Linked DNA regions of Homo sapiens. The protein of the gene in region 3 purifies or fractionates together with the protein of the main gene of each other region. This does not show direct contact. Each region holds a gene or a part of one and is shown on either strand. Other genes may lie near its edges. The genes, in order: ENPP6, MT1X and DCTD.

Evidence for each region.
Region 1: the proteins of DCTD (region 3) and ENPP6 purify together in Homo sapiens (co-immunoprecipitation; one large-scale study listed by IntAct). This does not show direct contact.
Region 2: the proteins of DCTD (region 3) and MT1X fractionate together in Homo sapiens (co-fractionation; one large-scale study listed by BioGRID). This does not show direct contact.

What each region holds. Positions count from the first base shown.
Region 1 is NC_000004.12:184,092,225-184,095,949, forward strand, and holds part of ENPP6 (glycerophosphocholine cholinephosphodiesterase ENPP6 precursor), read right to left. Parts: intron 1,012-3,725; exon of another isoform or gene 1-1,011. UniProt on the Homo sapiens protein: Choline-specific glycerophosphodiesterase that hydrolyzes glycerophosphocholine (GPC) and lysophosphatidylcholine (LPC) and contributes to supplying choline to the cells.
Region 2 is NC_000016.10:56,681,149-56,684,696, forward strand, and holds MT1X (metallothionein-1X), read left to right. Parts: upstream 1-1,321; 5' UTR 1,322-1,392; coding exon 1,393-1,420; intron 1,421-2,016; coding exon 2,017-2,082; intron 2,083-2,809; coding exon 2,810-2,901; 3' UTR 2,902-3,048; downstream 3,049-3,548. UniProt on the Homo sapiens protein: Metallothioneins have a high content of cysteine residues that bind various heavy metals; these proteins are transcriptionally regulated by both heavy metals and glucocorticoids. May be involved in FAM168A anti-apoptotic signaling.
Region 3 is NC_000004.12:182,910,700-182,914,424, forward strand, and holds part of DCTD (deoxycytidylate deaminase), read right to left. Parts: intron 1-3,725. UniProt on the Homo sapiens protein: Catalyzes the deamination of dCMP to dUMP, providing the nucleoside monophosphate substrate for the thymidylate synthase/TYMS.

The DNA.
Region 1 (3,725 bases), 1.2 Mb from region 3:
GCAGTTTTCTCGGTGCTCGCTAGCTCAGCAGCCATGGCGATGGTTTCCTAAATACATTTGGAAGATGAGTGGAACACTCTTTGGGAGCATTTTACCAACAGATAAAATACATTAGCCATGTGGAAAATGAGCAAACTGGTATCTGAATCAGGGATCCATGTGCAGGCTCTGAGCGATCTAATGGAGAAGACCACTGTGCCTCTGCCCAGAGTGGCCCCAAGCTCGAGAGTCACGCAAGAACACACAGGTAGGGTGGCCACACGCAGCACGGTGAGTGAGGGACGCCGAGGGTGACTCCACAAGTCTTTGGAGGGATTTCAATCAAGGGATTTCTTCTTCTCTACAGCGGGCAGATGAGAGGCAGAATTCAAAGCACTTGTCCATTTAAAGAGTGAATGTAAGATTTTAGTAATACACAAAAGCAACTTCACTTTTAGGCCCCAAACCAGAGCTTGTAACAAAATACCCAATGCTACATTAAGGTTGAATTCAGGGAGGAGATTTAAGCCATTGATAAAGGCCTGTGCCTGTGCTTTCTAGTTCCCCTACAACTTTTGAAGGAAATGAGTTGTTTGGGGGCCGTAAAGCCAAGTTTTTTAAGATATTAGAAATAATCTTTGTAATTGCTTTGCTAAAGAATCCTAAATACTTTAGTTAAAAAGCAAACAAACAACAACACACAGCAATATATTGCAGAGGTATCAACACCAAATTCTGCTCCTCTATTTATCCTGGAATTATAAATTGGAAAAAAGCTAAATATAGATACTTCTGCCACATAGTATGTTAGATCCAGGGCAACTGCCCAAATAGCACGTTTTGCTCCCTTTGGAGAATTAAAGTTGAATCCAATATAAAGAGGTGTGTGGGCTCTACCGCCAGCCTGCACCCAGCATGCACTAGCTGGGTGACCTCCGGAAATAGGCATAGAAAGTCATCGTTCCTGGAACACTGTGTATACCCAGTAAATGGTCACTACTATTATTAATAAATATTTATGACAAGGACAAATTGTGGTTTGAATATATTCACTTTCTAAATTATCTGGAGGGTTTACTTTTCTTCAGGGGCATGGAGGATAAGGGTCAGCTTCTCCTCAGAGTAAAAATTAGTTTTAAAAAATGTAAAACCTGGCCAGGCACAGTGGCTCACACCTGTAATCCCAGCACTTTGGGAGGCCGAGGTGGGCAGATCACATGAAGTCAGGAGTTCAAGACCAGCCTGGCCAACATGGTGAAACCCCGTCTCTACAAAATTTACAAAAATTAGCTGGGTGTGGTGGCAGGTGTCTGTAATCTCAGCTACTCAGGAGGCTGAGGCAGGAGAATTGCTTGAATCCAGGAGGCGGAGGTTGCAGGGAACCAAGATCGTGCCATTGCACTCCAGCCTGGGCAACAGAGCAAGACTCTGTCTCAAAATAATAATAATAATAATAATAATAATAATAATAATAATAATAATGTAAAACCTGTCCAGAGAGGAGAAAGAAAGGGCTGCCCCAGTATCCCAGCCCCTCTCAGGCAGATCAGACAATCAGATGAGGATGGTAGTTACACTTCCCTATCCGAGGAATCAAGTGCAGCACGAGAATCCAGTGGAATGGTTGTTCCAGCGGCATGGAAGCAACTCTTCTATCTTCTTCTCATGTGACCTGGATGTGATAATTCTACTGCCACATGGGGCCATGCCTTGCTGTGTGTGGGTGGGAGGGCATGTGAGGCAGTGGACCAGAGTAAGCCCAGGTGTCCCACAGGCTTTCAAATATCCATTTGTGGCTGGGCACTATGGCTCACACCTGTAATCCAAGCACTTTGGGAGGCTGAGGCAGGAGGATGGCTTGAGGCTGAGGAGTGCAAGACCAGCCTGGGCAATATGGCAAGACCTCAACTCTGCAAAAATAAAAAATTAGCTAGGTGCGGTGGTGTGTGCCTGTAGTCCCAACTACTCAGGAGGCTGAGGCAGGAGGATCTCTTGAACCCAGGAGATGGAGGCTACAAGTAAGCCATCATGCCACTGCACTCCAGCCTCGATGACAGAGAAAGACCATCTCTAAAAAACAAAACAAAACAAAAATCCTCTTCTTTAACACTTCACAGGAAAAACTGAGATCAAATTCTTCTGACAAAAGTATTAGAAAATATTATCTTTTTACACTGGAAATATGAAATCGAATTCTGTGCATTTAAGCATAAAGGAGGATTGAGATTTCTTTCCCATCCCACCTAGTTCGTGGCCTCCTGCTGCGCAGGGATAGTGCTTTGGGCTCAGTGCAGAAATAATCCAGGCTGGAATGAGAAAGCTTTTAGAAAATTCCTGAAGAGCAAAACAATGCCTGATCCAACTGAGGACCCAGACAGGCTCTACTAGCTGAAGATGGCATTTCAGACATGGACAGAGAGTCCAAGTTATCCTCGCGTGTTTACATTTTTTTGGATATGAGAGGTGTGTCTCTTACAGAGAGGAGGTTCTGCAGGCTTACACTGTGGCTGGCCACCTGGGGCTGCCTTCCCAGTGGGGCTTGCTAGCTCGCAGGCAGCTCACTGACTCCCACTCCTGCTGTCTTATCTCAAACGTGGAGTTCTCCAGGGCAAGATTAGACTGTTCAAATTAGAAACTGGGATTAACAAGAGTGAGGCTCTCCTGCAGAATTACTTCCCTTTCTCTTTGCTGGACCAGACTCACTGACTTCTGAGGCTGCATCTGGGCAGCCGCAATGATGCCCAGCTTTCCCCCTAAGGGAGAAGCACATACAGTTAATCAGGAGGGATGCACCTTTATCTCAAAGTGCAGCCAGATAGCTATTAAAGGCCTTGCTCTTAAATTTTCTTCTCAGTAAACAGCCAGTGTGTAAAGCTGTTTAATCTTTCATGAGAACTGGAGCCAGAACGTGATGGTTTGCGGGAGGCTCTCCACGCTGTATCTGCCTGGAAACATTTTGCAATTAGCGCAGTCCATTTTCATCAGGGGTCATCTATCTGTCTGTAAAAGACTGGGCGCTTTTAGTGTTACAGGAACCTGTGATGGAGGCCTCTGTTAATGGACAGAATCTCTTCACCAAATTTTAACTTTAAGCTAATGCAGCTTTGGGGACCTTGTTTAAAATTTGGGGTTTGGGGCTAGATTTGGTTCTGCTTTAAAATATTCCTGAGACTCGGCTGGGCGTGGTGGCTCACGTCTGAAATTCCAGCACTTTGGGAGGCTGAGACAGGCAGATCACCTGAGGTCAGGAGTTTGAGACCAGCCTGGCCAATATGGTGAAACCCCATCTCTAAGAAAAATATAAAAATTAGCCAGGCGTGGTGGTGGGCTCCAGGAATCCCAGCTATTGAGGTGGCTAAGGCAAGAGAATTGTTTGAACCCAGGAGGTGGAGGTTGCAGTGAGCTGAGATGGCACCATTGCACTCCAGACTGGGTGACAAGAAACTGTCTCAAAAAAAAAAAATATATCTATATATATATATAGATATATATATTCCTGAGACTCTCACTTGTATATAGTCCTTCCCAGACCACTGCTTTGCATTCATGATCCTATTTCCCTCATCTGGGAATGGAGGGTGCCATGCTTTTGAATGAAAGCCTTGCTGACTAATGTTCTCACAAAGAAAGACCATGGCCCTGGAATGTATCCAATGTAATCCAGTAGTTACCCTCGGGGTGCTCCATTCCTAATTCCTTTAGCTTTGGGGCTCTGCATATCTGACCTGGGGCTCGGCTGACAGGGA
Region 2 (3,548 bases), on a different chromosome or scaffold from region 3:
TTCACTCCAGAAATATAAAGCCATGAGCAAGATAGTCCCTGTCCCCATCACAGAAACGGAAGGATACCTGCCAGTTCTGCTACCACCTGCACCAATATGTGACTTAACGTTTTTCTTTCAAATGATTCCTATTTCCTTAGATATTTTTATATGAAAAGCAAACTCATTAGCACCACTGAAAAAAGAATCAGTTTAACTTCCAGACATAGAAGGTTGCCATCAAATTATGCTTATTCATATCCCCTCTGCATCTCTGTTTTGCTTCCAGGACTGACCTTGATGCTTGGTTTTGTTTAAAGATTTCAAGCAGTAAAGAGATGAATATATCTAGGCCAAAGGGAAGCTTCATCATTGCTTTGGGACGCTGACCGGATTCAGACCCAGCAGTGTCACTTCGCAGCCCTCTGACCCTGGGCTGGTGGCTTGAACTCCTTTTATTGTTGTTGTTCAGATTAGAATATGGGTTCATGAATAGAAGTATGTCCCTTTAGGGTTGCTGTGAGGGTTCAACGATGCAAAGTGACTAAAAAGGGCCTAACACGGATTAATGTTATGTAGAGTAATAGGAATATGGAAGGAAAAATAACCCTGTTTCTTGCATTTTAATTTAATCCGGAATCCGCATATCACCTAAAATGATCCCTTTTCTGGGAGCATTCCACATTTTCCAAACTGTCATCCTGTGGTGGGGTGCCCGGCTAGGCTATGGGGAGACCTGGAGAGTTTTATGCAAAGGAGGACCTGGGCAAATGTGCCCATTCAGCCTCTCAAGAGTGGAGAATGCAAGGACGGGGGCAGAGCCCTGTGTCTGTTCTGTCCCTAGACATAAGAGAAACGTGGCCAACAGACCGAGGTGGGGACGGGGACAGGGACCGGCAATGCAGGAAATCCGAGTGTCACATCCTCTGCCTCTCATTTGCACACTGCTCCCTCGCTATGCTCACCGCTCCCGCCGATCCAGGGACGTGATCCAGGGACTCTGGGAAATGCAAAGCTACACACAGTGGAGCGGGGGCTGGGGGTGTGTAGACCGCCGGGATTCCGAGTTTCCCGGCACGCCTAGGAGAGGGAGAGGCAGGCAATGTCAGGGAAATTGGGCAGGCAAGACGCCAGGGACGCCACGTACTGCCAGGTTCTCAACGAGGTGGAGCCAAAGGGGCAGGCCCCGCGGTGCGCCCGGCGCTGGGCTCACGGGTTGCTGCACCCGGCCCAGGATCGCGGGCGGTGCAGACTCAGCAGGGGCGGGTGCAAGGACGAGGCGGGGCCTCTGCGCCCGGCCCTCTTCCCGGACTATAAAGAGAGCCGCCGGCTTCTGGGCTCCACCACGCTTTTCATCTGTCCCGCTGCGTGTTTTCCTCTTGATCGGGAACTCCTGCTTCTCCTTGCCTCGAAATGGACCCCAACTGCTCCTGCTCGCCTGGTAAGGGACACCTAGCTCCGCGCCTTGGGATGCCCGTTTCCCAGCCACAGTACAGACTCTTCCTGGGTTTGAAGAAGTCGCATTTAAAGTTCTGAGCTGAAGGGGCTCCTTTATTTCGTTAGGTGCTTTCTTCCCGATCACGTCCCTGAGACCACTTCTCGCCTCCCTGTGCCTCTAAGTTAGAGTTGAGGGTACTGAGGCCCAAGGCTGTCCTGCTCCATGTCACCCAGTTGGTCAGGGGGCTGCTGGCTGAGCCCCAATGCTCTGACCAGGCTCTGAGCAGTCAGGGTGGATGGGAAGTGGGGGGCCATTGCCTCTTCGGAGTTCAGGACAGAAGGTTCTGGCCTCCTGTCTTAGCCTTCCTGGGCTGTGTCTGGAGCCTGGGACCTTGCTTGTGGGGTAAAAGCAACAGAACACTTGCCCTTCCCAAAATGAAGGGAGAGGAGATGGGGCTTCTCTTCCTCTCCCCTGAGTGGGAAAGGAGCTCTGGGGGCTGGTCCTTCAGCACAGAGGAGGGGTCACTGAAGCGTTATTGACCAGCTGCTGTACCTTCTGCATCTCACTCCACGCTCACTGCCTTTTTCTCTTCCTTGCAGTTGGCTCCTGTGCCTGTGCCGGCTCCTGCAAATGCAAAGAGTGCAAATGCACCTCCTGCAAGAAGAGTGAGTGCAGGGCCTTCCCTGCGAATCTGGGGGATGGGCCAAGTTAGAGCAGGGAACCCAGAGCTCTGCAGGCAGGGGCAGGCCAATGACCAGCTTCCCCAAACCCCTCCTTCAACACCTGATTCAGAATCAGACCTCAAATTGCCTTAAAAATGGGTGAGTCCCAGCCTCTTATTACCAAACTAGAAACTGAGGCCCAGAGAGGTTACCAGATAGTGTTGGGAACAAAGCTGGAATGTGAACCTAGGTCTCCTGCCTCCTGATGCAGCCTTCTTCACCCTTCTGGGTCCTGAAGCACTTAAGGCCCAGGATCTGGAAGACCCCGGGTGATTTCAAACCTAATGATCCAGTCCTTTCCTGCAGGGGTAGCCCAGAGCTTCCCTAGCCTTCCCCAGAACTGCTGTGTCAGGGATTTGCCCCCTGTCCGGCTGTGAAGACTTTCCTCATTTAAGGGTAGGTTTTGGGGAACTGGCCTCCTTTTGTTCCTGTACCCCCAATCACTACCTGTCCAGTCTTCTGTCCTGTCCCAGACTCAGGTGGGGCTGGGCAGCTTTTTCATATAAAACCCTCATCCCAAAGATCTACCAGTTCTCTTCTGACAAAGCCATGCCATCCTGAAATGATGGTCCTCTGGGGCTGGAGGCAGGGCTCGAGCCAGGCCTCTGTTGGGGCAGGGAGGTGCCTGATTGAGTCTGCTCTGACCTCTCACTCTCCCCTTCTTCTCCAGGCTGCTGCTCCTGCTGCCCTGTGGGCTGTGCCAAGTGTGCCCAGGGCTGCATCTGCAAAGGGACGTCAGACAAGTGCAGCTGCTGTGCCTGATGCCAGGACAGCTGTGCTCTCAGATGTAAATAGAGCAACCTATATAAACCTGGATTTTTTTTTTTTTTTTTTTTGTACAACCCTGACCCGTTTGCTACATCTTTTTTTCTATGAAATATGTGAATGGCAATAAATTCATCTAGACTATTCTGGCTCTGGGCACCTCATTTGTCACTGGGTATATGGCACTTGGTTCCAGTTGGATTGTAGGAAACCCAGATTGTGGGGCATTTCAGAGAGGGGACCATGGCAGTGGGGGTCTGGGTGCAAGGTTCCTGCAATCCTGCCTGGCCTTGGCTCTCCTTTGTGAACTATGGCAAACTAGGGGGTTTATTCTACCACCCTCTAGCAACGGTTAACTGGTAGTAGCTGCCCTTTTTGTGTAGCTGTGACACAGCCTATACTCACCAGCCACCTATGGTGCACCTACTGCATACACAGGCATGGGGTCCTCAGTGGTGAGGGGAACAGGGAGCTTATGGACTGCTGGGGGGAGAGAGAATTATAGAATAAGGAATCTTATAAAGGAGAAAGTACTGTGACTGAATGCACTTGGGGTGAGCCCAAATGAAGAACTCTTTCCACTGGGATCTGAGAGCTGCATTCCTGCAGAGGGCACAGCTCCAGCAAAGGTCTGGAAGTGGGGA
Region 3 (3,725 bases):
CAGGAAAAGGATGGAATAAAAAGCTTCTTTAGCAGAGGGAATTTTCATTTTCCACATTAATACTACATTATAATAAAATAGTTTTATGAAGTTTTGATCCCAAGACTGGAAGAACAAAAACACCCTTTAAAAATAACTCTCTAGAGACACAGCCCAGGAAAAGCTCCATCTTCCTATTATGTTACAAGTAGTGTGTGTTTCCCTCCTCCCCACAAGGCATCAATCAGGACTAATGACTTCCGACTTACGGAATTAATAAAGCAGTATTAAGCTGTATGTTATTTGGTAAACTCAAATTTACACAGTTCTCAAGCTCCCTGTCACAGTCCCTTGGGGCTGCTATAACAAAGTCCCATAGACTGGGTGGCTGAGAAACAATGGACATTTATTTCTCATGGTTCTGGAGGCTGGAAGTCAGGACACCAGCATGGTTAGATTCTGGCAAGGTCTCCTTTCAGGGTTGCAGATAGCCATCTTCTCCGCCTATCCTTGCACATGGAAAAAGAGTAACTGAGCTCCCTGGGGTCCCTTTTAGAAGGGCACTAATCCCATTCAGGAGAGCTCCACCCTCATGGCCTAATTACGTCCCCCCAGGCCCCACCTCCAAATATCAGCACATTGGAATTAGGGTTTCAACATGTGAATTTGGGGGGAGACACATTCAGTCCACTGCACTCCCCTTTGAAGAAATGTTACAGTGAGCCACGCATGTGGCTTTCTGCATGATGCCGGACACAGGCCACCCCTCCCCGAGCTCCTGATCTCTGAGGAGTAATTATTTTATCGGAGCCTCAGTCTGATCAACTGCAAAAAAAAATGAGACAATGATTGGCATTTCAGTACAGCTGAATTCATGTGCCCCACAGGAGAGACACAGGGAGGTAGCAGGAAGAGCACTGACCTTGGAATTAGGAGATGTCACCCTGCATGTGTGACATTATAGAAGTTACTTACAAGAAAGGAGGAGGCTTAGATCCTGTGGGCATAGAACCCTGAGACACTACTAAGGTATTGCAAGGGGTCCAAGCATATCCACAACTGGATAAATCCCATGTCCAGGACATACATAAACTTTTCCCAAACATACATAAATGCTATCCAATTAATAAAGTTCAGATTAACAAAAAATGTTACTGATACGAAGTAGTTTTTGTCATTGTGGAGTTTCTTACTCAAAAGATACTAAGAATTTAGCATTATGCAGGGGTCCTGGAAGTTTTTCAGCATTTAAAAGAGGGTCCTGTACATTCAAAAGAGTTAAAAATCATTGTCCAGAACTCGAGATAATCTCTAAAGCTCCTTTACAGGGATTAACCTATGAATTTACCCTTCCTGCTACAGCAGCTCAGTCACCATTAATGTAGATGAGGAAAGAATGGGTTGAGCTATCCAACTCCAGGCAGTATCCCCTTATTTTTTAAATTAATTTTGAAAATCTTAAAACGAAAGCAAAAAAAAAAAAAAAGACTTTGCATTTGAGTCAATTATCAGCAAACATTTCTGTGACATCCCAGGCAATCCAAACATTTACTTCTCTGTGGCCTGAAAAACCTTGAGAAGACAACAAGTGTACAGTTTATACACAGTCATCGTCATTTAGACTTTAAGCCCATCTTTACTGTATTATGGCGGCAGTAATACTAAATGCCTTTTAGAAACCATTTAATACCTTCTACAACTTTTATGGTACATCAAATTACAAGCTTACTCTCGTGAAAGAAAACTGTCGACATTCTAACACAGCTACATATAAATGAATAATTGATAAGTAAGAGCAAAGAGCTTTGAAAACCTAGAGGTATCATATGGATAATAAAAAATAATGCAGACAGACAACCAGTGCCCAGGAGCTCAGGAGCTATTCAATAAAAAACAATCGGTGAAGTTGGACAAATACCTATGCAGGTTTTTAAAAAAATTCCTTCTAGAAAGGGGCTCTGAAAGGTACTCTCCTCAATTTGGACAAAAGGCAGTGTCTCATAACCAACAAAATCAGCTACACGGGAAGTCAGGAGAGCTGGGAAGTCTGGGGTGTGGGGCAGGTGCTGCAAATGTACTGCATGGCCCTTGGCTTCCAGGTCACTGCTTAAAGATCTGCTGGGGGCTCTGGGTGACTGAAGAAGGCACAGGCCCCATTGGGAGGCCCACTCAGTGCTCACCCAGGACCCCTCCGCACTGTCCAACCACGGGTATCTTTTGCACCAGCTTGAGTATGACGGACCGCCATCCCCCCAGAATTCCTCCATATCAAAGTCCAGCCCCAGGGCCAATATTTCACTGCCCAGACTCGGTGACATACTGACTGTGGCCGTCACACAGTTCAATGCAGACCTTTAACATATCGACCCTCCACTTTCACCATTTTTATAGGGGACTTTGAACCGCACTGTGAAAAATTATCTTTGCATGGACTTAAAAACAACTAATCACTTCCCTTCTTTCTTACCATCAAAAGCTTATAGAATCAAAATCAGGGTGACAGTTTCTGAGTCCGCGCATTTTTCTAATTAGTCATCCACTACCACCGGCTCTGAAGCTGTGCTGAGAAGACAGTCTTACCCTCCCCCAACTCCATCCTCTCTTCCCACTCCGACGAGGGAGGGTGAGGTTAAATCAAGGATCTGAGGATTCGGTCCCCTTCATCCCTAAACTACTTTTCACATCCTGGAAACCCAGACTGCTTTGCAGTCCTCAGTTCCTCCTCTCTCTCCAGGTACCTCTTAACTTTTTCTTTCAAACATGGAGAAGTTGCCCCTAGGCAATTTAGAAAGAAATTTATGGGGCTTATTTAACATGATTGAGGTCCAGGAACATTAGTAAAAATATATAAATTAGACTAAATGTTGACTTGGATTCTTCATGAGAAAAACCCAGAAGAAAACCTACCAGGAGAGTCAACAAAGAAGAAAGGTCGTACATCACGCCTTGGCCTGAAGACACAATCTTTCCCATTTGGATGGCCTTACTCTCCCTTCACTTCCAACAGCGCCAGTCTGTTCATTCTCAGACATAAAATACAGGGCCTAACCTTACAAAAATCAGCAACCTGCATACCCAGCATGATTTGCCTCTTTTCCAGCATTGCTTGCATATTCTCCAAGGAATGCAAGGAAAAGTAAAGCTATGGCTGGACCCTCCCAGGCAATCTCTGAAGGAATTTTCCCTGGGGCTTAGACAGGCAACAAACTCTAAGAAGCAGCCTTCCCTAATTTCAAGGGGAAAATCCAGAGACAGTCAAGCCAAAGGTTTACAGTTCTACACTTCTAGCTTTTTCTTTTCTTTGTTTTTGTTTTGTTTTTTGTTTGTTTGTTTTTGTTTTGTTTTTTGAGACAGAGTCTTGCTCTGTCACCCAGGCTGGAGTGCAGTGGCGCAGTCTTGGCTCACTACAACCTCCACCTCCTGAGTTCAAGCGATTCTCCTTCCTCAGCCTCCCGAGTAGCTGAGATTACAGGCACCTGCCACCACGCACAGCTAATTTTTGTATTTTTAGTAGAGATGGGGTTTCACCATGTTGGCTAGGCTGGTCTCGAACTCCTGACCTCAGGTGATCTGCCCGTCTCCACCTCCCAAAGTGTTGGGATTACAGGCGTGAGCCATCGTGCCCAGCCTCACTTCTGGCTTTTGGTCTGACCACAGCCTACTGTGAAATTGCAGCATCCCCTGTAACTGGAGGAAGCAACTGGATCCTCCATCTCCTGATGTCTAGTTCACAGTTTGATTCCTGC